Regions from separate parts of the Homo sapiens genome. Here all the other regions are linked to region 1. Evidence: fine-mapped expression QTL. A gene starts in region 1. Each other region holds a variant in brackets. All regions are shown on one strand. Distances are from middle to middle. Region 1 holds the start of LRRC8D (leucine rich repeat containing 8 VRAC subunit D). Region 2 has its middle 28 kb from the start of BARHL2. Region 3 overlaps LOC105378850 (a long non-coding RNA gene).

Region 1 (8,341 bases):
GGCTCAAATAATTTGAAACTCTTCAGCATTACTACCACTTTCAAGCAAATATACTGTACATTTATTTGTGTATGACTATGCAGGTATATCCATATTTAGCCCACCAGGGCTATTTTTCATTTTCCAACGAATTCATCATGACATTACTCATAAGCCACCTCAGTGCATTTGAGATCAATTTATAAAGTTTGATTGCTGCAAAATTTTTCAAAAACATGTTTACAGATTATTGAAACCCATATTGCCTACCATATGTTAGGCACTCTGCTAGGTGATAAAATGGAAGAATGCAAAATCACTCCTCCAAGGAGCTCAGATTCTTCTTTTGTAGGAAAGTCAATTATTCATTCCCTCATTCAAAAGTATTATTGAGTGTCTTGGAGCATGCTATAGTTTAGGTAAGAACAAATCAAGTTAGAATCATCATACTTGGTAAGAGGAGATGCACAAATAATGCCCTTTATCTTACATGGTCCTTTTAGGCAGTACTGTGATTAAGTGCTTGGACCTCTAGAGCCAGGCCACCTGACCTAAAAAGGTAGCTCTGTCAGTTAAAGGCTATGTGGTATTGAGCTAGTCACAGAGCCTCTTTAAAGCCTTCTGTTTCCCATCTATTAGATGAGGATAGTATCTCATAGGGCTGCTGTGAAGACTTAAGGTATGTGTAAAGTATTTGGAAGAGGACCTACGTAAGTATTAGTTGTTATTGTTGATACAGATTTACCATGTGCTGAAACAGTTGCCAATTCTCATAACAAGTAGCAAAGGATAGTAAGTGCTCTATTTTTTGTTGAATAGAACTTCCTAGAAGCCATGTGTTTCTCTGTAGATATGTCTAGAGTAGCCTCAGATTCCTTTTCCATCATATTTCTTAATTCTGAACCCAACATCAAATCAGTTATTGTCCTTTGCTGCCTCCGTTCTGTTTTTTTGTGGAAAAGGGGAAACTGATGGGCTGATTTTTTTGTTTCTGTTTTTACATCATAGATAATCAGAGTTATTTTTCATTACTTATCATTGGTAGACTTCTTACTAGTTTGATCCATGCTATAGTCTGAATATTGCGTCCCCCGCCCCTCCATTTTATATGTTGAAATCCTAACCCCTAAACTGATGGTATTAGGAGGTCATTCCTTTGGGAGGCGATTAGGTCATGATGGCAGAGCCTTCATGAATGGGATTAGTGGCCTTAAAAAGGAGGCCTGAGAGAGACCCTCACTCCTTCCACTATATGAAGACACAGCAAGAAGTCACCCTCTCTGAACTAGAAAGAAGACACACACACACACAGACGTGGAATCTGCTGTTGCCTTGAACTTCCTAGCCCCCAGACTATAGGAAATAAAAATTTTTTTTTTTTTTTTTTTGAGACAGAGCCTCACTCTGTCACCCAGGCTGGAGTGCACTGGCATGATCTTGGCTGATTGCAACCTCCACCTCCTGGGTTCAAGTGATTCTCCTGCCTCAGCCTCCCGAGTAGCTGGGATTACAGGTGCCTGCCACCACTCATAGCTAATTTTTTTATTTTTAGTAGAGACAGGGTTCCACCATGTTGGCCAGGCTGGTCTCGAACTCCTGACCTCAGGTGATCCTCCAGCCTAGGTCTCCCAAAGTGCTGGGATTACAGGCATAAGCCACCATGCCCAGCCAATTTCTGTTGCTTATAAGCCACCCAGCTTATGGTATTTTGTTATAATAGCCTGAATATACTCTAAAACAATCCTTTAAATTTTTAAAATTATTATTCTGATTATCAGAGTAATATGTGCTCAATATAAAAACAATTCAAACATACAGAACTTGATGAAAGGCCCTAGTAATCCCACACCCAGAGATAATCACCATTAACAGCTTGTTATATATGCTTCCAGACTTCTTCTGAAGCATACATTTAATAACATGTATATCTTAATGCAAAAAAGTACAAAAAAATGGAATCATACTATTCATATTGTTCTGCAGCCTCCTTTTTTTTCACTTATAGATTTTGGACATCCTTCCATGTAGGTACAAATAGATCTAGCTTATTTTTGTTAATGGCTGCTTATGGTTTCCTTCTACAGATCTAGCAAAATTTGCTTAAACAGTTTCCTACTGGGACTTTATTATTTGATTTTTACACCATTACATGTTCCCACTATTACAAACAATGTTGCAATAAGACACGTATATATATATTTTTGTACATGTGTAAATATTTCTGACATAATTTTTGCACAAATATGCTTAAAGCACAAACTCTTAGACATGGACTTACCTATTCAAAGGGAACACACCTATTTATCAAAAATTTCCAAATTGTCCTCCAAAGGGGTTTGTCCAATTTCCTCTTACTTTTACAGTGTGTGAGTGTCTATTTCTCCACATTTGACTGTTTTCTGAATATCACTTTTTTCTTTTCTCGATTTATACCAATCTTAAAATCATGTTTTTCAAGTCTAGAATCACAATTTAAAACCCAGGGAAGATCAAAAGAACAAAGTACAGAAGATTGGTTTTTTTGGTTTTTTGGTTTTGAGATGGAGTCTCACTCTGTCGCCCAGGCTGGAGTGTGGTGGCACCATCTCAGCTCACTGCAACCTCCGCCTCCCAGGTTCAAGCGATTCTCCTGCCTCAGGCTCCTGAGTAGCTTGGATTACAGGTGCGTGCCAACATGCCCAGATAATTTTTGTGTCTTTAGTAGAGACGGGTTTTCACCATGTTGGTCAGGCTGGTCTCTAACTCCTGACCTCGTGATCCTCTTGCCTCGGCCTCCCAAGGTACCGGGACTACAGGCGTGAGCCACTGCACCCGGCCTATAATTTTTTTTTTTTTTTACAAACAGCAAAACATTCCATATTCATTATAATAGTGGGCTGTTTTCAATAAAAATATCACACCACTAGTTGTTAAGTTTTAAAAGACCTCTCATCTCTTAGATCAGCAAATCTGACACTGATTAGATCACTTACACACACTCCCTGCCCATACACCTCCTTCTTGGCAGTGTGTGGAACAGGAGTGGCTGCTGGCAAGGAGGGTCGGGGAAGGAAAGTGAGAGCAAAAGGGCCGAGGGCTCAGAATCTGGTGGCATCTTGTAACGGGTCTCGGGCAGTCCCTTGAGTGTATTCTGGACCTCTCTGTTCATGTTCCTGTTTGGGCTGCTCTTCTTCACGTCCAATGCCTGAGGGCCAAGTGCTCACCATCCAAGGGTCAATTCTATCAGCTCCTCTCTGAATCCTTTTCTGAAACCCTGGACAATCATTCTCTTTAATGTCTCACTGTCTCTGAACCGACACCTTCCTGAGTACCTGTAACATTTGTGCAGCATGCTTATTAAGAATATTTAGATGCTGGGTAAACGTTGATTGAACATTTGCTGACATGGAGAGATATTGGTAGAAGACAGATTAGACTTCCGATGGTTTACAGAAACACATGGATTCAGATAAAAGAAGATATGAAAGCACTGGGTTGAACCACATATTTTATTACAACCAAATAACTCCAAATATCCCGCCTTAATTTATTTATTGGCCCCTGCCTCTGCTCACCCACAAAAAAGACTGCAAATGAACCCCGATCCTACAACAACAACAACAAAAAACGGTGACATTATCGGGCTGCAAAACCCTCTTAGCATAGAATAATCTTTTCATCTGCCTCTTTCAGATGTAACATATTTTTGACGAAAAGAATGGGATGAAAACGGCGGGCTCAGATAAAAACAAGAACCGACTTTCCAATACAGCTTCAATAACAGACGGAACACATGAAGCTGAGAAACTCTCCATGCCAAGTAGTAGTTGTGTGTGCCCCAAAGCTCAGATAAGTACTTCTCCTTAGAGTTGGAAGGCACTTAAGTGACTTTTTAACGTAATTCAACTCCCCACCCCCAGCGCCAAGTCTTAATATCAGAGTTTTAGTCGACGGGACAGCCTCCTTCGCCCAGGACGGGTGAAGGCTCCTGACCATGCCTCGCAGCTAACTGGCAGCTGCGCCTGCCCGGCACCGAGCCCTGCCCAGGTGGACGCTTGCGAGAGCATTACGGCGATGGTTATGTAGGCTGCCGTTCTTCCCCTCCCAAGCACCTGCTCCGCATCTAGCAGTCGCTCGCCGCCAGTCTCCAACCCCGGGTCCCCTCCCTCGCCACACAGACCCCGTCCGGTCAGGCGCTGCAGGGCCACCGGAGAAAGCGCTCGCAATCACATGGAGGCCCGGGCCCGCCCCATTGGCTGCGGCCGGGCCAGTCGCGGCACTCGCCGGCTGCGGTTGGTCCCAGAGCTGCAGCGCCTGCACGGGCCCGGAGTCCATGTTACGCTTTGTCTAATTCCCCTCGTTACAGAGTCATGTGCTGCTGCTCCCGTCGCCGCTGCTGCCGCTGCCGCTGCCGCCGCCCGTGGTGCCCCGGCTCCTCCGCCGCGCTTCGAGGTGGCAGCCGCGGGCGGGGCCGCGGGAGCAGGGTCCAGGGTGCAGCGCGCCTTCGCCGCCCCGGCGCGTCCCGGTGCAGCCGCCGCCCGCCGCGGGTGATGCCGCCACCTCCGGCCTCAGCATAAGCCGTGGCTTGGCGGCCGAGCTGCACCCCAAGGTTGGTGCGCACCTCTCCCGGCAGGGGCCGGGGGCTGCGAGGGAAGGCGACGCGCAGGTGGAGCCGCGCCGAGCCGGAGCGCGCAACCCTGGCGCAGGCGCCGCGGCCCGAGCTGCGGTTGCGGCCGGGAACTCATTCGGGGACGTCCGGGGGTCGGGAGGAGGTGGCGGCGAGCGGAGTGGGCTCCCGTTTGCTGCCGCCAGGGCCTGGGAGATTGTTCCGCTTTCTGCAGTCTGAGCGTCGGCCGCTTCGGCCCCGGGCGGCCGGCCCTGCGGGAGGGGAGTGCGGCTTCCTGGCTCCTGAACCCCTCGCGCGCGCTCCCTTCTCTCACCTCCCTCCGCCCTATCGGAAAGGCGGGGAGAGCCGGTTTCGGCTCTGCTGGTTCCTCCCGGAGGTGGGTGTTTGGTGTCTGGCCTTGCTGGCCCGGCGTCCAAAGGTGAGCCCTTTAACTTCTCCAGAATCGCCTCCCCTCCGCTTCCTTCCTGTGCAGGGTGGGCTGCGCTGGGAGCCCGGCGGGCGGGGGCGGGGAGGTGAAGGCCCGCGCCCCGCCCCCCGCGCCTGTGGGAGGGAGCTGGGGGCCCGCAGGTGCACCCAGCCGTCCGCGGGCCGTCTCCGGGTTGGGTACCGGTATAATCCGCTTCTAGCTTGTTTGGAGGCGTGGGCTCTTGGGAGCGGGACTTCTGCTCAAATCCTGTCCAGGGGCTTGAAAAGGAGGAGAATTGGGGGTGGTTGCCGGGAGGACCAGCACCTCCAGTTACTGGAGGGTTGATAGGGGCCTTCTCCTTTCCGTCACCCTTTACTAGGGGGTATCCCTTGCAGATAAATGAGATTTTTTGATTTCTTAAAAAGCCAGCTGCAGTGAAGAAGAACTGCTGCAGGTCGAGGGGAAGAGAGGTAGGTCCTTGCTGGAGAGGGAGAGGTGGGCTGTGAGGTTCCAGGAGCACGCACTTGGGGTGTGTGTGGCCGAAAGTATGGAGGTAGGGTTGTGGGAAGGAAACAGCCGAGATGAGAGGGAGGGCGCACTCAGGATGTAGGCGGAGAGATGGGGAATAGGTACTGGGGAGTCCTAGCGGAATGTGGGGCCCAGCTGGAGCCGCTTGGCTTATATTTGGCTCCTCGTTGCCTCGCAGATTTCCTGCTCTTGGATCTTCAAAAATATTTTTTTGTTGGACAAAGAAAACTCTGAGGACATATTTTGGAAGAGCTGATTTCTGGAAACTTTCCTTGGCAGCTTTGATAGTAAAATTCCGTACAGGCAGCGTTTATTGAGCACCTATTACGTGGTTTGTACCGGACTTTGGAAGAGTCTGGACAGGCAGGGAATCCCCGTTTGCAGTAATGATGAGGGCTGTCTACCTTATAAACAAATAAGGGGCCCCTCCCAGTGCCAAGAATGAGAGTGATCAGACCTTCCTCGCCATAGCATCTGGGACCTCTGCTTCTTACAGACCTGTGGGAAGAACCCTGCACCATATCCTGTAAATGGGGTCCTCAGGCAGCATTTATTTTTGCAGTCCAAAAATAGTGACCAAACACCTACTGTCAGCTAGGCGAGAGTTGGGGTTCTTGCTTCATCTGTCTTGACACCAACTAACTAAATCCCTGTTAAAATCCAAGTGCAAGATGGGGAGGAATCTGAGATGAAAATTAGGTGGTTAAAACAGGGGTCACGAAAAGTTGATTTGGGGTGTTTGGTCTCTGTAGGTTACTTATGGAGCCCCCCATAAAATGATTAGGTAATCTATGGAGCCAGGGAAAAATTCCAAAATCTTGAATTGGCACAGTTTATTTATATATTTGAACACTATGTTAGATTTGTCTCGTTTTTATTGAGAGTGTATGTGTGCGTGTTGATTAAAACCTAACAGATTAGAAGGTTGGAGAGGAAACTGTCCTTAGATGACCCAGCCTTCCATTACCATGTGGAGTAGCATATGATGCAACACTTAAAGTATTGAGCCATATTCATATCATTTTCTCCCTGCTGTGTTTTCCAGCATTTAAAAAACATGGTCAAAACTTGGCCCTTTTTTTCTCAAAATCGCTAAAGTTTAATGGAAAGAAAAAAGAAAAAAACTAGGCCCCTTTTCCCTTAATTTTTATATTATGCAGCATTTTTAAAAATTAATTTTAGAAAATTCTGATGTGTTTGTCATGTCCAAATAGTTAAATTGTTTTGGTAGCTATAGTTTGGAAATTAGACTCGATTCTGTTCTCAGTACTGTAGACAAAATAGCTATTAAAGTCAAAAGTTTGTCAAAACTTTGTAATCATGATTATTATGTTGTTGAAGTGGTAGCTTGTAAGAGATTTCAGTTATTTTTAATTGGAGCTGGTGTTTGACATTCTAAGAAACACCAGTTAATATTTGTTGAGTGCCAGCAGGAAGCAGAGAACTGGAGTGGGTGCTGTGGGATCTTAACAAGGCAGGAGAGGATTCTCGTAGTAATCACAGAGAGCAGATAAGACAGGCACACATGAGGATGCCAGCAGAAGCAGACAGTTACAGTTGTCTAAGAATCCAGGGTGTGTGGAACCAGATAAAAGTTTATGAAGTATGCTGAGGGAGGAGTGGAAATCTGAATTGACTTTTGACAGTGGTCAGGGATGTGGAACAGAATATACGACTAATAAAGGAGGGTAGAGGGAACCTAGTTCGTGAAAAACTTAACCACAAGTCAGTGGTGTTAATCATTTGCCTCAAGACCAGTGGCTCTCAGAAGTAGGCAATTTTGCTTCTCAGCAGACATTGAGGAATGTCGGAGACATTTATGGTTATCATAGCGAGGTGGCAGGTGCTGCTGTCATCTAGTGGCTAGAGGACAGGGATGATACATAAGCATCCTACTGTGCACAGGACATCAACCCCCTTCCTCCTAAACAAAGAATGATCCTGTCCAAAATGGCGATAGTGCCTGCCCTTAGATCTCAGAATAGGTCTTGAAGGGAGGTGGTTCTTGACATGGGAGGAGTAATAACATTGAGCTTAGGAAGCTGATGTAGGAGACTTGTGCTCAGGTCTGATGTGATTAGGGTCTGGGCAAATCCTTATTGAAAGAAAGGGGCAGTTTGGAGGGAGATCATAGCAGATGAGCACAGTATGATAGTGGAGTAAGTTGGGAATCATTGAAATCAGAATTGGCATTTTAGAGGGGCCCTATCCAATTTATTTATTTTAGTAAATTCTTACCCTTTCTAGGTAACTTTTGTTTAACCCCAGGAACCGTGAACTTCTCCTGAAGACAGGTTATTACACCTTTGGACTGTTTGTTGTATTTTTACTTGAGCTGAAGACTGTCTCCTTGAATTTTTTTTTCCAATGATTTTCTTCTTTTGGAGCTGCCTACTCTCTTTGAATGCACCAAGACAATATGATGTCCCCTTACCCCCAGTTGACTTTGCTAATGCAAACTAGTCCCAATTCTTTTCACAGTCTTTTATTGGGATGTGGTTTCTCGATGTCTTCTCAGTTTATCGGCATCTCACATGGAGAATCTGGAATTGAATATGTAATTGAGATGTGATCTGGCCAACAGAGAGTACAGTAAGACAGCTGTTTGCTGAGACCTAAGCATAAATGTCTACTTACTGCACCTTAAGCTTACAACTGCCTATGATTTTCTTAGGCAGTGCCGAGCACAAACTTCTTTATTAGATAATCATGTTTTGGATAGTCAAAACCCCCAGATATTTGCTCTGTGAGCTGCTGCATCCTGTATTTCTTGGGCAGATTTTTTTGGAGAAGTTTTTTTTGTTGTTGTTGTTCCTTCTCAA
Region 2 (8,341 bases), 920 kb after region 1:
TAGAGTAGAATGACCATGGGTGTTTTTTACTTAGAAAAGCCTGGTTTATATCATGTTTGCCTCTTATGAATGTGGGGAAAGTTGCTTATCAGCTTCAGTTTTCATTCTGTAAAGTGAGGGCAGTAATTGTACCTACCTTTCAGGGTTGTTACAAGGATTAAATGAGATGAGGTTCATAAGCCATCTTTTCCTTATACTAACTACAAATCAGCATCCATGTAACTTTCAACATTTGGGCCTAATTCTGTCCTCTGAAGCATGAAGATAGGGCTGCAACTGGCCCACAGAGCACCTTTGCAAGAACAAGAGAAAGGTGCACCGTTTGAGCTGACTCTGCCTGGGTTCGATGTATACGGCTTGATGAGCAGAACAAGAGTTGGATTCCAGTGCCTACTTACCCTTCGAGTGAGCACCTTTGACCACAGTTAGAATAACCATCCACTGTGTCACTGCAAGCAGTTTCAATATAATCTGCCAGGAAAATCCTTCCTATATTTAAGACTTCTCTCAACTCCTCGACTCCCCTTTTCTCCCATCTCCAAACCAAACATTACCAGCTGGATATGAGGAACACCTCATGGTGAAATAGTACACTCTTCGTTAAGGAATGATTCCAGAGGATGAGGAACTGGAAGACTAATTATACCAGCTAAAAGTCATTCACATTAAGGTGTCACCTTAATTGTGCATTTGCATTTTTAAATGTTACTGTGAAGGTTTATGCTCTTGTTAAAGATGGTTGGACATCAGTGAGAATGTGGGGAGGGACGTGTATGTGCCTCCTGCTGGGAAAGGGGAAGGTATGTGAAATCCTAACTTGGGCTGCCCAGCTGCACCCAAGGGCCTCTCTGGTGTCATCTCTAGGTCGACACACCAGGGGAGAGTGGGACCCAAGGTTGATTCTACTTCCCCTCCAGGCAGAGGACCCGCTCCTAATATTTGTGGGGACCAAGGCAAGAGAACAAATGGAGGCTTATAGATCTTATGTCTAAATATTTAGAAGTTATAAATAAAGGTAAAAAACTGTTAAATAAATTGTTGTCTCTTACCTTGACAAATATTCATAAGGACAAAATTGAGAAAATGTGTGTAAAGCTATGTTTTTTATGTGACTGGCAGTCAGCAAAATATCAAAGATGACTGAATTAATTATTATTGTGCATGTCTAGGTGCTCTGTTGATGAGCTGGTGACACTTGGATGCATAATAAAGCCATACATAATTCATTAGCTATTATATATATTACATAAAATTAATTTGTCTTGCCTTCATTTAAAAAACAATAACAAATTATATTGGTATAACCAAGATTTTCATATGTGTTCTATTGACATTAATGAAAATTAGCCAATATTTTTAAAGTCATTATAGTTCATACATATACTCAGTTCATTTCAACTTGGAGAAACTTCACTCTGCTAAGGCAGGGTCAACTGGAATTCTCAATAAAATTCTTAAACCAATACTGAAGTTAGGAAGTGAACTTTATATATGAATTTAATAATTATTCAAAAACTGTAATGCAGGCACATGTAACAAAGTAGGGTTATTGCAGAACATATAAACTATTTTAATATCAAATGCATTACTATTATTTTAACATAACTATGTTAAAGGAATATCTAGATATTAATACGTAAAGTGTTTCTTACGTTTTTAATTTCAAATTTTCCAATGTTGGGTCATTATAAAGGAATAAAAATTAGGGAAAAAGTTAGCATTGATTAACTTGTTCAAATTTCTCTTCAATTAGGACTGTACTCTGAGCCTGGGCAACATAGTGAGACCCTGTCTCTTAAAAAAAATAAAAATAAAAATAAGCCATTAGTTGGGCATGGTGACTCACTACCTATTGTCCCAGCTACTCAGGAGACTGAGATGAGAGGATCACTTGAGCCTGGGAGTTTGATGTTACAGTGCACTATGGTGGCACCATTGCCTCTAGCCTGAGTGTCAGAGCAAGGCCATGTCTCAAAAAAAAAAAAAAAGCCGAAGATTGTACCTTGTGTACTCTGATCTACAATGGCCAGAAACATGGTTCCTATTGAAATTATAAATTATTGGTAATTATTTATACATGAATAATCTCCTTAATAGGTAAACATTTTCATTTTCTTGCTCAAATGTCCTTACATTTTATTGGAACAATACTTTTGTTGCATATTTTGCAATAAATTTTGACTTAGAAAAAAACACTTTGCTAAAATTTTTTAAAATACTTTTTAGCCCTTTTAAAAATGAAATAGCCAAACTTAGATCTATTTGAAATTTTTTGTTAATTTTTTGGTAATATTATTAGTAACACGAAACAGTTCACTTCAAATAACTGTGGATAGCATCAATTAAAAATTAATTTTTCAGGCAGGGTGTGGTGGCTCACGCCTATAATCCCAGCACTTTGGGAGGCCGAGGTGGGTGGATAACCTGAGGTCAGAAGTTTGAGACCAGCCTGACCAATATGGTGAAACCCCGTCTCTACTAAAATTACAAAAATTAGCCAGGCGTGGTGACATGTGCCTGTAGACCCAGCTACTTGGGAGGCTGAGACAGAAGAATCACTTGAACCCTGGAGGCAGAGGTTGCAGTGAGCCAAGATAGTGCCACTGCACTCCAGCCTGGGTGACAGAGTGAGACTCTGTCTCTAAAAAAAAAAATTTAATTTTTCTCCAAAGATCTGACTTACGTTTTATTTGAAATTCTTCTGTTGCTTAATTAACTTTTGTGGCACGTCTTGTGTCTTATCTAAATTAAACTTAGTTGCTTAAACAGCATTTAAGCAGCATTTCTATCATATGTCCAAGAGTGATTTTAAAGTCATCACTTTGTTTCAATGAAGTAATTCATCTTCGGGACGATTCGGAAAATATTGTATTTCATCTTTGAATTGCTATTGAAACAAAAGGTTGACACCACATCTCCTAATAACAAATTCAAATGTGTGCTATACATGACAAATGCAATTTTTTTAAAAAATTGGCCAGTATCCTAGATGATAAATCTTTCTGTTTATTTATCACGTTGCAACCATTGTCTTAGATGCTGCCCTCAGAGAATTTTTAAACAGTTTAAATAAAGGTAGGTTTTAATTTAATTTTTAAAAAATTTAATTACATCTTATTAAACATTTGATAAAACTAAAATTACTTGCAATTCTAAGGTTCAGAATCTAGTCATTAATGCAAAGAATAAATATCATGCTTCCTGAAGGTTACATCCAGACTTACATATACAATTTTAAGAGAGATATAAATTATTGCAAAATATTCTTTTTCTACCCCATGCAACTGCAGCAAATACTGTGCTATCTCCTGAGTACCTTTGGAACCAAACTAGAATACAAAGAGAAGCAAGAAAATGGGTACTTGGTGCTATTGGGAAATGATACTTTATTATGAAAAGACCTGTAGCATTCACACTATCTGAGAGGAAGGATTTGACAAGTTAGTTTGTCTTTTCCCTTACCTGAGTGTTTCTACCACTCAAATCCTCCCTGCACCCCACGACACTGTCTGTCTTTTACACAGATGGTGGCACAAGCCAAAAACCCTTGCGGTTTCAGATGCTGTTTAGAGGACAACGGGGAAGAGATGTGCCTTTTTCTGGGTCTTGAACTGTGTTCCTCACAAGAG[T/G]GGGTCACCCTGTGTCAATACTGACCTCCCATGCCAATTGTCTTTAGTACATATTTTGCGTGTGTGTTTGTCATCTGTGCAGTCCCAAAGGGCAATACTACCAGCAAGCTCCCTTTTCTCTGTGGAGATCTGACCAAGTCTAGCTCATAGGAACTATCTGTATCTTATACCAGATCACGTGCCCCTAGACCTTCCTTGCCTGAAGGGGCCAAGTTTGGTCTCTTCATTTCCTTTCCGTATGCTCCAAGTCTTTTATTTGGAGGGTCTTTGAAGCTGTATTGGGCAAATATCCCTCTTTTACAGATGCTAAAATTGAGAGTCAGATAGCTAAAGCTACTAGAAGTTCCTCATTTGTACAGGGCAGACTAGAGCCCAAGTTTTCTCATTCTTACTGGTCAAGTGGAAGCAGTGACATCTTTTGCCCAAAGCAGTAAAATAACCTTTTATTTTTCCCCCAAACAAATGCTGCCATATCCCCTAAATAGAAAAACATCTATGTGAGCCTAACACACACATAGCATTGGCAACATCTTCAAAAGTCTAGGTGTGGATTTTAATATGATGAAGTTGAGTTTTACAGTTCACACAATTCCAGGTTTCATAGTGATAAGAAATGTGGATCAGAATTGTGCCTGCTGTGTGAAGGTGATGGCAATCAGGTCAGCCATCCAAGCAGGATACACTTGACAGACAGAGCTCCCATGCAGGTCCCCCAAATCCAAGCAACATGTGGCTCAGAGTTGCCAAAGACTGTGCTTTCCTTTCCTGGCCCTTCAATGATACATCTCCCCAATGCCTTCTCTGCATATTTTCTCTCTCAAATTCACGGAGGTTCTCATTAGGAGAGCAGAAAGGCCTTTCTTCTAGCACTACTCACTTCCCAATGACTCTTCTCACCTCCTCCCGCTACCCTCCACCACCAACCTCCAACCTCTCCCTTTTGTGTACATTTATGTCCCTTCTATTGCATAAGGTCTCTACTGCAGCATTTAGCTTTGCAGTATATACCTCAGACAACACTCCCTCATACCCCCTAAATTAGTCTCATCTCTACAATTAGATTTTAAGCATTTTAAGATCAAAGGTTTCGTTCACACTTTTATGTCACACATAGTACAGTGCTGAACACATATATGGGCTCAATCACATTTGTCAATTGATGGATTAAACAAGTAAATTTTTTTTTTTTTTTGAGACAGGTTCTCCCTCTGTCACCCAGGCTGGAGTGCAGAGGTGTAATCATAGCTCACTGCAGCCTGGACCGCCGAGGCTCAAGTGATCCTTCCACCTCAGCCTCCCGAGTAGCTGGGACCACAGGTGTGTGCCACCATGCCCGGCTACTTTTTTAATTTTGTAGAAACAGGGTCTCGCCATGTTGCCCAGGCTGGTCTCAAACTCTTGTGCTCAAGCAATCCTCCCGCCTCAGCTTCCCAAAGTGCTGGAAGTATAGGCATGAGCTACCGCACCAGCCTAAACAAATAATTCTTAAACTTTTTGGTGTTATTCCCTTTATACTCTTAAAAATTATTAAAACTTCAAAGAGATTTTGTTTGTGAGGGTTTATATCTATCAATATTTACTACATTAGAAACAAAAACTGAGAAAATCCTAAAATATCATTGCAAAACAAGGCAACAGAAGTGTACTTCTTGTCGTGTCTCTGCATAGTTGCAAGGAAAACATTGGGATTTTAAAACAATTTACTGGACAACATTGAGGTTACAGAGATTTTACCAAATATAATTGACAATAACTACTTACAGCCTAGGAAGTAGTGAGAATAACTGAGTTAATCTCAGAAAATGCACATTTTTGTATGCTAAATCTACCTTAGAAAATTGTAGAAAACACAAGGTCATACAAGCATCCATTTCATAAACTGTCAGGGCAATGACATCATCCCATAGATGCAGCCTCTGGAACACTACGCCACATACTCATGAAAGAATGAGAATGAAATCGGTAAGTAACATCTCAATAAAAAAAAAAATAGTTTGATCTCATGGATTTCCTGAAAGACTCTTGGGGACCCCCAGAGATTTCCAGACCAGACTTTGGAAACAAGTAAATTATAGTCTTGGTTAATAAGACAACTTAAAGATGCTTGTTACATAAAATTACTAGCAGGAAATTATAGGACAATTGGAATTCATTTTCTTGTGACTGGCATTCGTGTTAGTTATCTAATTGCTGTATTCGTTCTCTCACTGCATTAGTCATCTAATTACCCCTAAAGTTCATTCCTTAAAGCCATAAACATTTATTATCTCACAGTTTCTGTGGGTCAGGAATCCGGGTGTCACTTAGCTGTCTGTGCTGGTCAAGATGTCTCATGAGGTGGCATTAAGCTTCGGACCAGAACTGCATAGTCCCAACTTACAAAGAATCAGCTTCCAAGCTTGCTTATATGGTTATTGACGTACTATTGGACTGAGGCCTCAGTTTCTCACTGGCTGTTGGCTGGAGGTCCCCACCACACAGACCTCTCCATAAAGCAGCTTACAATGTGGCAACCGGCTTCCCTCAGAGCAAATGAGTGAGAGTGTAAGAAAGGAGTCCCAAGATGGAAGCCACAATCTTTTTGTAACCTAATTTGGTAAGTGATATCCATCTCCTTTGCTGTATTCTATTTGTTGGAAGCAAGTCAATAAGTCCAACCCAGTGCTCAAGGGGGGCTACCAAGGGTACAAATATCAAAGGCTAAGATCATTGAGTTGCGCCTTAGAGGCTGCCTACTATAGCATTTTTTTCTTGCAAAAAGAAAGGCATGATTCAGCAAATGATTGATAAGCCACAGACCAGTTCCTTGCATTATTCTGTTCTTTTTCTGCCTAGCTTCCTCTTGTCATCATACCATTCTTTTCTTCCTTGTAATACTGCTGTTACCAATTAAGTGGCTTCATGTTGGTGAGAAGAACCTAAGATATTTTAAGATTAGAACTTTATGGCTTTGGTTCATCTCATTTGAAATTTGTTGGATTGCTATCTTAATAAATATTTCTCGTCCATGGTCATGTCAGGCCACCAGTTGTCCTTCAAAACCCACCTTTTCCATATTTCTGGGCACATGGCCATCTAGCTAGCAATTAGGTCTCCCAGCCCTTTGACAGCTAGAAATGACCATGGGCCTAAAGTTTGGGCCAATGGGACATGAGAGAAAGAGATGTGTGCAACTTCTGTGTTCTCTCCAACTTAAGAAGGGGCCCATGTGCTGGATTTTGGCTCATCACCCTCTCTACCAGCTGGAAATGGTGACAACTTGAGCAGCCTTGGAAGCCATATGTTGGGGATGGCAGATCCACCCTGGCTTCATGGGACAGAGCTACCCGTTTAATCTGAATCAGTCAGATTGTTCCATGAGAGAAAAACAAATCTCTATCTTATCTAAGTCACTATCTGGAGGCCCTGTTTGTTATTAGCAGTTCAGCTTTTTCTCCGGCTGTTATACTTGACATAAACTAGACAAGGAACCCAAAGACAGAACTGTTTTACTCTCATTTAAAGTACTGCTTTAGTTGATAGTGGGGGAGGTTATGTGTGTGTGTAAGAGGATGGGGGTGTGTGGGAATGCTATTTGAAAATAGCATTTTCAAATTCGCTGTGAACCTAAAACAGCTCTAAAAAATAATGTTTAATTTGAAACAAAACAAAACACTGTTTTTTACTTAGCAAATAGTAAATATTTTATTGATTCATTCATTGACATCATTCAATAAGTATATAAGCACCTACTACTATGTGCCAAATACACCGGGGACATAGTGGTAAACACCATGCTCACATTCTTTATTTTCATGGAACTTTCTCTTTAGGGAAAACAAAGCTAAATAAGCAATTACACATGCAATTAATTAATTGCAATTATGGTAAATGACAAGAAGGAAATATAGAGTGCTATGTGGGTATATAAAGAGAAGCCCTGACCTATAAAACTCTAATAGAGATCATGTATTTTTAAAAAAACAAAAGAATAAATGCTTAATGAAAATAATTTCAGATTGTAATACATTTTAATTTCTTGAAAGAGATTCTCTAAGCAGTAAAAAATAAAAGTTGATATGTGACATTAGCCTCTTTCCTCACCTGTAAAGTTGAGATAAAGGTTTCTCTTCCTATTTCCCTATCTCCATACCAGTTCTTCACATGTATAGCATTTTCCAATAACTCTTACGGTGCTGAATCTAGACAAAATAGACTGACCCCAAGAATAATCTGAATATGTGTGGAAAGGGACACGTGTATCTGTGTTTCAATGAGACAAAATGGGCCTGAAGGAGAAACCAGGCTCAAACCTAGGAGAGATGAGTTCGAGGTTGATTTGATATTTCATTTTTTGGTGTTGATTTGTTTTATTTTATTTTATGATTTTTAAAGCACAATCTCTGCCCTTCTAACACTTTGCTAATGTACTGACAACTAAAAAGTTAGTTTGTAAAGTGCTTTGGGCCCCTTGGTGGTTAGATAGGCACTAAATCATACATCAGAGAGAAGGCCTCCTGAAGATGAGGACTTGGAACAGTTGAGGTTTCTGTTTGCTGTGACACCAATTGTCCCTTTGCTCCTCTGTAATTCTTTCCCTGTAGAGATAACATGGGAAGCAGGCTGGAAAGTAAATAGAGAAAACTCAAAGCTTTGTACTCATGAGGAATCAGAGGTAGTATTGTGTAGTCAATCAATAAGCACACAGACACTACCCCCAGCCTCCTTGGCTC
Region 3 (8,341 bases), 570 kb after region 1:
CCATTAGCTCAGATTAAGTTTTCATATAGATGCTGAGAAGCATGCTAGCAATATCCTTAGCTCATTTTTATGAAAATTTTATCAGTGCTTTTTTCTGTACTACACTCCAATTGGGATGTCTCAGAATCTAAAGCTCAGCTTTGGACATGAACTTCTCTCAACCTGGCTGGCTGCTGCTCTAAAGGTTTCAATATTTTATGGGCTCTGGCTAACTCAGCCGTGAGATTCAAGCTGCAGAGATTTAACTCTAATGTAAAATCATGAACGGATGAAAACTGGGATGTCATAAGTAATACATCTACAAGAGCAGGATGCAGTTACCATTTTTAAAAGGGCTTTAAAAAGAAAACAACATTCTCTGTTCTGTCTTTATGCCCCAAAATGAAAAGCCCCTGAGCTATTGTACTAACACAGGGCCATCTTTTCTTCCCTGCTTTTCTTCAATTGTTGCTTAATTGTTGTGGTGGGCTGGGGTTTTTTCCCCTTAAGGTCCTCCCATCCACATGAAAGCCCCTAATGTCTGCATTCCAGAGAAATGGACACTGCGTGGTCGAATGTGTATAGGCCAAACCCATTTCTTAGCATCTTCCTCTTTTTGTCTCAAAACTGATTTAAAACATTTGGAAAATCTGTCTATTCAGCTGAAGTGTTCCAGTGCATTCTTTCCTGGAAACAGTGGGGTCACATGTGATCTGTCTGATGGACTTTTCTGCTGCAATCTGTAGCCATTTCCCTCGAGCCCCGCAGAGCCTAGCAAAGCCGAGGAGCTCTGTAATGGCTCCAATAACAACGTGTTCTTTGTGTGAAAGAATCCAGGGGGAAGAGCTGGAGTAGACTGGCCAGCAACAACAACAAAAAAATCATTTTTTGTACTCATTTATTTCTTCATTATGTGCTTTGCCATTAAACATTCTTCACAGTAAATACACCTTTCCGTAAAACACTGCCCGAGCACGAAAAAATACAGAAAGTTCTGTTTTTTAAAAAAGGCTGTAGTCATCATCGCTAGTTATTAATCTGCTTCTAATAAGATGGTTGATGGCAGGAACTGCATTGCATTTGTCTGTACTTGTAACAGGAGAGATGGTTTCTAGACAGAGCTTAATTTATCTGTTCGAAAATGTCACCTGATGGATGCATTGGAATAAATCCATCTTTTCTAGTTTCAAAAATATCACAAAATCAACACTTCACTAAATTAACTATAGAATCACAGAACTGGAAGAGACCAAATAAATCAGGTGGTGTGCCCATTCCCTTCAGGGAGCTGGATGTCCCACCAAAGGCAAAAAAGTGACCGTGCTGGTCATTACAGCTTCAGGGACCCCAAGATCTTTCTCAGAACCTTCCTAGTACTCTGTCATGTTGAAAGTGGCAGTTCTGCCCTTGCATTCAAGAGAAGTTTAAACTATTTTAATCATAGCCCAGCTTCTCTTGTTTAGTTAACTACTTATAACATGGAAAACAATGCTTTCACATAAACCTCCTTATATCCTTGAAGATAGTCATGAAGTTTCGCCTCTGATCTTATCTTCTGTAGGATAAAACCAGCTTCTTTAGCATATTATATAATGGGCACTTCTCATCTATTTAATCAGTCCCAGAGGGTTGTGGCTTCAAATGACACTATAATATTTATAAATTATTAAATAAATTAAAATAAGGGTATTTTGCCGACTAAATTGGCAAGATATCTATATATCTATATCTATATATGCCCATTGTTGGTATGGGTGAGAAGTGAGACTTCTCATATGAAGCCAGAGGGTGGATGAATTGGTACAGCCTATTTGGAGGACAATTCAGTACTAGGTATCAAGAATCGTCAAATATACATGCCCTTTGACCTAGTAACTCCACTTCCAGCAATTCATCCTAAGAAAATAATCAAGGATATGGGAGAGATTAAACTACAGAAACACACACACACACACACACACACACACACACACACACACACACACACAGAGAGAGCATAAAATTCGTTTTGTTAAAATAAAAAAAAACTACCTAACTTTTATTATGTACTTAGTCTATGCTCTAGGCACCAAGCTTAGCACTCTATGCATGTTATCTTATTTAATCTTAAAAACAAACCTATGGATTACTTTTTATTATTATTACCATCATCTTCATCTTCATTTTACTGGGAAAAATTGAGGCTTTAATATTTTAAATAACCTTTCAATAGGAAGTGGCTATACTGGAACTTGACACTATGTCTATTAAATGACAGAGGCTTGTAGTCTTTAACAGTATGTTATACTAGTTACACAACCATACAAAAAGACTGGAAGTTAATAATCCAAAACATTAACATTTGTTATTCTGAATGTTGGGATTACTATTTGATTTTTTTCTTTAAATTTATTTTAAGATATCTAAAATAAACATAAATTTCTTTTATTTATTTCAAGATCTCTAACATGAACATGTATTTCTTTTATAATGGGTGAAAAAAGATACTGTAACTTGGTACATCCCTCACTGACCATTTCCCATTCTGTCTCTTTCCCTCACACACACACACACACACACACACATATATGTTCTATGTAATTTATTCTTCAAACACAATTTTTTTCCAACATTCAAAATTTTTGTCTTCATCATCCTCTCTAGGGTGTGTGCCCCTCTAAAGAGGCTCTGAAAGATTCCACTAAATGTAGACGAGCCCCAGTTCTTGCCTCTGAGGGCCATATTAATTTTTCTTTTCTAACCCAGATGCCAATTAACATAGCTCCATTAGGGACCACTACTACCAAAGCAATCATATAGCCCTCAGTCTAAAAACAAATCATTCATGTAAACTCAGTCTTGTTTTTAAGCCTTGTTTATAACTGCTAAGGATGTGAGTGCAACCTTCTGTCTGAAGGTGAGATACATTTTTTCCTGTTCTATACATTTATTCATCATCAGCAGTAAGTGCACAACTGGACGTTTGCTGCAATTGCGGGGATGAGGATGATGAGGATGATGATACACGAGATCAGCAAAGCCATAGTTGATTGTGCTGCAGTCATGTTGCCTGCAACAAAACACACCATGGACTATTTTAACTTGAAAGGAAGTAAATACATATATGGGAAGGTGCCACATTTCTAGCCCTATTCTTTCAGCAAACATTTATTGAGCAAGTATTATGTGTTATGCACTGTGCTAGACAGTCTACAAAGATGAATAAAGCATAGCCTCTGCCCTAGGGGAGCTCACAGTCCGGGGGAGAGAGACTATAAACATAATTTGGGGTCTGACTGTGAAGAACCTTGTTAAAAAGTTTTGACTTTATATTTTGGGTGTGGAGACTTTATGCTTTGGGTGTGGTTTTCAGTTATGACATAATGTAAGCTGCTTACTGAAGAAGTACTGTGATGAGAGTGTAGGAAACGAAGTAGGCTCTGAGAGACCATTCTACAACTGTGGCATGTTCAGGGAAAAATTTGTGCCATTTTGAACTAGGGCAGTGGGGATATTAATATATATTTTGTATATTGACTTGGCAAGTCTTCCTGCCCAAGTTGAAATTGAGAAGGGGTGTGTACAGTGAGGGAGCAGAAATTATGGTTGTCTTTGAAGCTTTTAACTTGAGTGACAATAGATGGTAACACTATTCACCAAGAATGGGAATACAGAAGAAAAGTTCATAAGATGTTTTTGGAAATGCTAAGTTTGATGTATCTAAAGAACATAATATCAAGATTTTTAGAAAGAAATTGGGAATGTGTATCTAGAACTCCTAGGAAAATTTGCTAGCAAGATGTTTTGTGATACTGTCATACAAATGTGAATTCAACCATCAGGAATGTTTCATTTTGCATTAAGGTATTTTTTCCTACCTTTCTTCTGAACATGGAAGCCAAAGTAAGTTTCAGAGCATGCAAACCCTTTAGATTCTCCATGCTTCTGCCCTAAAATGTTGATGTAATCTGGTATGGTTTTCTAATCACTTGTTTAATTGTCTGCAAGCTTCTCAAAGGCATAGACTACAGACAATGAATTGGCTGAATGAGTCACGGTAGCATGGAGTGAGGGAATGGGAAACAAATAGATTACACAGTCTGTTTTTCCAAGAGTTGCTTAAAACTCTGCAAGCAGCAAACAAAAGAAGTGTGGCCTGCAGACATCTTCAGGGTAGGGAACAGTGAGCCCTCTTCACAGCCTCACTATACCATAGTTCCATCCTTGACCCTTGGTTTCTCCCTGTTTCTAATCCCCCAAAGCAATTCATTACCAAGCTATTTTGTTATTTCAGGCTAATATCTTCTCATATCTATATTACCACT[G/A]CAACATACCAATGACGCTTCTCTAGTCTTACATCCTCTAAGTCAGGGGTATCCAATCTTTTGGCTTCCCTGGGCCACACTGGAAGAAGAAGAATTGTCTTGGGCCAAACATAAACTACACTAACACTAATAGTAGCTGATGAGCTTTAAAAGTTGCAAAAAAAATCTTGTAATGTTTTAAGAAAGTTTACAAATTTGTGTTGGGCCACATTCAAAGCTGTCCCAGGCCACAGGCAGCCCAGAGGCCCCAGGTTGGACAAACTTGCTCTAAGTCATTATCCATACCAATACAGTATTTCTACAATGCACATCTGATCTTGTCATTCCCTTGCTCAAAACATTTTAATGGTTCCTATCTCAATCAGAGTAAAAAGCAAACTCCTTAGGCTTATGATAGGGCCTGTCATCCAAAACCCTTCTGTTTACCTCTCCTGCCCATCTATCTTACCACCTAGACTCCTTTTTCCTTCTTCCCTACTCACACTTTCTAGGCACATTAAGCCATGTATGACCGCTGGGCCTTCCCTCTTCTAGCCTCAAGACTTTAGTACATGCTGTTTTCATAGATTGGAGCCCTGTACCTTTCCTCTTATCCCCCTCAGCCTGACTAACTTCTGCTTAGCCTTCAGGTCTCTGCCTCGTTATCACACCTGTCTGCAGGAAGCTTTCCCTGATACTCCAAATCTTAGTTTTATGCCCCTATATGTCTCTTCATGGAACCCTATGGTTACTCTCATTGCAGTACTTTCCACATGGCACTGCAACAGCCTGTGGACCTGTCTTCCTCGATAGATAGTGAGCTTTTCTTCTTTGTCATTTCCCCAGCACTAAAACAGTAACTGGCCTATAATATGCTGCCTGCAAAGATCTGGTGAATGAATAAATGTCCTGCAGGGATGGAGAAAACATGAGCATGTGGCCTGGAAAAAGAGGCTTCATGCTTTCTCTATATCCTGTCTGGGTTGAGCCAGCAAATGAGGTCAATATTTAATCAATTGATCAACTAAGTGCAGTTAAACTATAGCTTCTCATACAGAGTCAGAGATGAAAGAAAATTGAAGTTGGAATTTTCCTCAGAAAAAGAGTAAGCACTGATATTTCAAAGAGAAGATTCTTAGATGAAACATACCCATCTCCCGGTTGTACTGGCAGGTGGGATGTTATTAGCATCCCTGATAAGCAACAAGATGGAGCCCAGGGCTTATGTATGTGTCTCTCTCTCTCTCTCTCTCTCTCTCTCTCTCTCTCTCTCTCTCTCTCTCTCTCTCTCTCTCTCTCTCTCTCTCTCTCTCTCCCTCCCTCCCCCCCTCCCTCCCTCCCTCTCTCTCTCTCTCTCTCTCTCCCTCCCTCTTACCCTCCACTCTCCTCTTGCCCAAGCAAAACAATCTTAAGAGAAGGGAAGTGCAATTACACAGTATCTGTTTAAAATTTAAGAGGACAAAAATGAGTTGAGGGGTTTTTTTTTTATTTTTGCAGGAAACAAATTAGCCCACAGTAGACTTGTGCCTGCAAGCAGCCCATTTAATTTGGTTATTTCCTACACCTTGAGGCTAGCTTTTTCTCACTAATTCTGCCAACCTTTTTCCATATCAGGGCTTATCTCCTTGTTGTATCCAGAATCATATGACAAGCAAGAGTCCTAGAATATTTTATCTACCTAATCATCCCACTGCCTTATTCCAGAAAGAATCTAAGGTAATGAGTCATTTTTTATAAGCACAGTCTCTCCCCTCCATTGATGCCCAATGGTTTCAGCCAGTGCTTATTAAAATTTCATTAAGCATCTAGTTAAAAATCAGTTGTTAAAGTTCATGCTTCTAATATGCTTGGGATATTAAGGACATGAACCCTAAAATGACCATACAGGAAGTGCCTGCTTGTGGCTGTCTTGTTGCAGAAGATCGTTGTGCCAGTTTGAGCTGGCAGAGGAATTTGGATCTCCATCCTGAGCTCCAGGATTATGTGCCCAACTGCCTACAGAAAATTGCCATTTGATGTCTCCATGGTCGTCTAAAATTTGAGATGCTCGAAATTTAGCTCACTATCTTACTCTCATCACAATACAGGGACTAAGAGCACAGAATCTGGTGCCAGACTGCCTGAGTTCAAATCCTTGTTCTACCACCTTACCAGCTACAAATGGGAAAATGACTTAATCTCTCTGGGCCTCTCTTTCTTCACCTATAAAATATGAATACTAATACTGCCTAGGTCTATCTTCTTTTCTCTGCATTCTTCGTGGGACAATTCTCCTCACTTTCTCCCTAGGTCTTGCTTTTCTCCAAACTCCACAGTGCCTTGTGTATGCCTCAATCATGGTCCTTACTACTCTGCATGGCATTTGTCTGTTCACTTGGCTATCTCCTCTTTCCTTTGATTTTCTTGATGATGGATCTGAACGGTATGGTTAAGATGAAAAACTCTGGAGTCATTCTGCCAGATTTCAATTCCAGCTCTATCACTTCCTAGCTGTGTGGTTTTAGGTAAGTTACCTAAACTCTCTGTGCTTCCATTTTCTTACCTACAAGGGTAATAGAAATACCTACTTCATAGGACTGCTGTGAAAATAAAGTGAGTTACTTCATGAAATGTGCTTGATTCTCTTCCTGCCACAAAATAACATAAGTAAATAGAGGTCATTATTACTATTATTATTATTAAACTGGACCTATTATTAATTGGGACCTCAAACTGTGCCTAGCAAAAAGCTGGCAACTTAAAAATAGGTATAAAGCTAAAAAAAGACACAATACCCCTACTTGGGACAGATTTAGCTCCTCCTCACTGGGCAGCAAATGTTTGCAGAGCACTTAGGCCTTGCTGTTCCACTGCTACTGCATCCTCAGGAAGGGAGGCCCTCAAGGACTGTTGCGTAAGACACTGTGCCACTTGTTGCAGAAGGAAGAGTGTGCACTTTGAACTCAGAAGTCCTAAGTCTGCCAGCAAAAACCTCCGATACTCTGGACAAATTACTTAACATCTCCAAGTTTCCTCATCTGTAAAATGGAAAATAATCATATCTACTTTGCAATCAGCATCTATTAAAGTTAGGAAAAAAAGACAATTTCTCAGCTTTATTGCAAAACCATTCTAACTAATCAAAACTTACACAAAACTCAACAGAAGAAGGTAGTAATAGTGAATGTTGGCACAATGTTAATAGGGAGGGAAACAAGGTCATTAAAGAGAGCTCCAAGTGTACATTGGAGATGAGGAATTGATATAAATCTTTTTTGATATTTTTCTGAGATCCTGGAAAGAAGGAACTTGAACAAGAAGTGTCAAGTGGAAGAGTGTTGATCATTTACAGCCTGTTCTGGTGTCTGTCTTCGATTCATTCTGGGTCGGCCTCATACAGTAGATGAACTACACATATGACCATGATTGTTCCACCTACCTTTACCCTAGGTTAGTTAAAGGGGTTGGTTTCCTGCTAGACCCAATGCTGAGCCCAGCACCTGGCATGTGGAAATAGTCAATAAGTATTTGTTGAATTGTTGCAACTTCTTTTAAAAGAAGTCTTATTTAATACAAAACATCTTTAAAATGTATTGACATCTACTATCTCTTTTATCCACTGCTGAATTTTTTAGCCTTCTAAAATTCATTCCCTTCTAGGCTACTAATGTAACTCTATAGGTTCTGTTCAAAATCGATTCTCCTTCCCTATATTCCAGATTCAACAAAAAGGTACCAGCAAATGACCAGTTGAACAGGTTTAAAACTTTGGTTAGCCCTCTCCTCTGAATTCTGGTTTCAAATATTTCAGTGTCTACTCAATATTGCTGTTTGGATATTATACCAGTCAAGCTCCCTGGAGGTAAAGCCCTTATTCTCTCCATCCTGGAAACTCCAGCTTACCTGTTGGAGGGGCTTCCACCCTCAAAGTATAGGCTTCTCTCTCTTTGCATCTCCTAGGCAAATTCTCCTCAATGACACTAAAATAAGTATAAAAATATGTGTTGGTTTTCCCCCACTAAATTAAAATATAAGCCTTATTGCTTTTTCTGAATATATAAATAATACATTCTTATTATTAGAAAGTTGAGCAAATTCAT

Evidence for each region. PIP is the estimated chance that this variant, and not a neighbour inherited with it, causes the effect.
Region 2: its variant is the best candidate, but not a certain one, in a credible set for the expression of LRRC8D in whole blood (INTERVAL, PIP 0.52).
Region 3: its variant is the best candidate, but not a certain one, in a credible set for the expression of LRRC8D in whole blood (INTERVAL, PIP 0.57).

The regions. Positions count from the first base shown.
Region 1 is chr1:89,816,725-89,825,065 of GRCh38, forward strand. It overlaps LRRC8D (leucine rich repeat containing 8 VRAC subunit D), which reads left to right and starts at 4,308. Exons shown (of 3, transcript NM_001134479.2): 1 at 4,308-4,567. It overlaps LRRC8D-DT (LRRC8D divergent transcript), which reads right to left and starts at 5,070. Exons shown (of 1, transcript NR_185885.1): 1 at 3,450-5,070. RefSeq lists silencers at 3,837-3,896, 4,337-4,686, 4,787-4,886, 4,977-5,186, 5,058-5,277.
Region 2 is chr1:90,740,656-90,748,996 of GRCh38, forward strand. No RefSeq gene overlaps it. Among named protein-coding and RNA genes, the nearest start is that of BARHL2, 28 kb to the left of the region's middle. The variant T/G (reference allele first, on the strand shown) is at 3,630.
Region 3 is chr1:90,387,301-90,395,641 of GRCh38, forward strand. LOC105378850 (a long non-coding RNA gene) reads right to left here. Exons shown (of 3, transcript XR_001738147.2): 2 at 8,145-8,221. Among named protein-coding and RNA genes, the nearest start is that of LINC02787, 160 kb to the right of the region's middle. The variant G/A (reference allele first, on the strand shown) is at 4,284.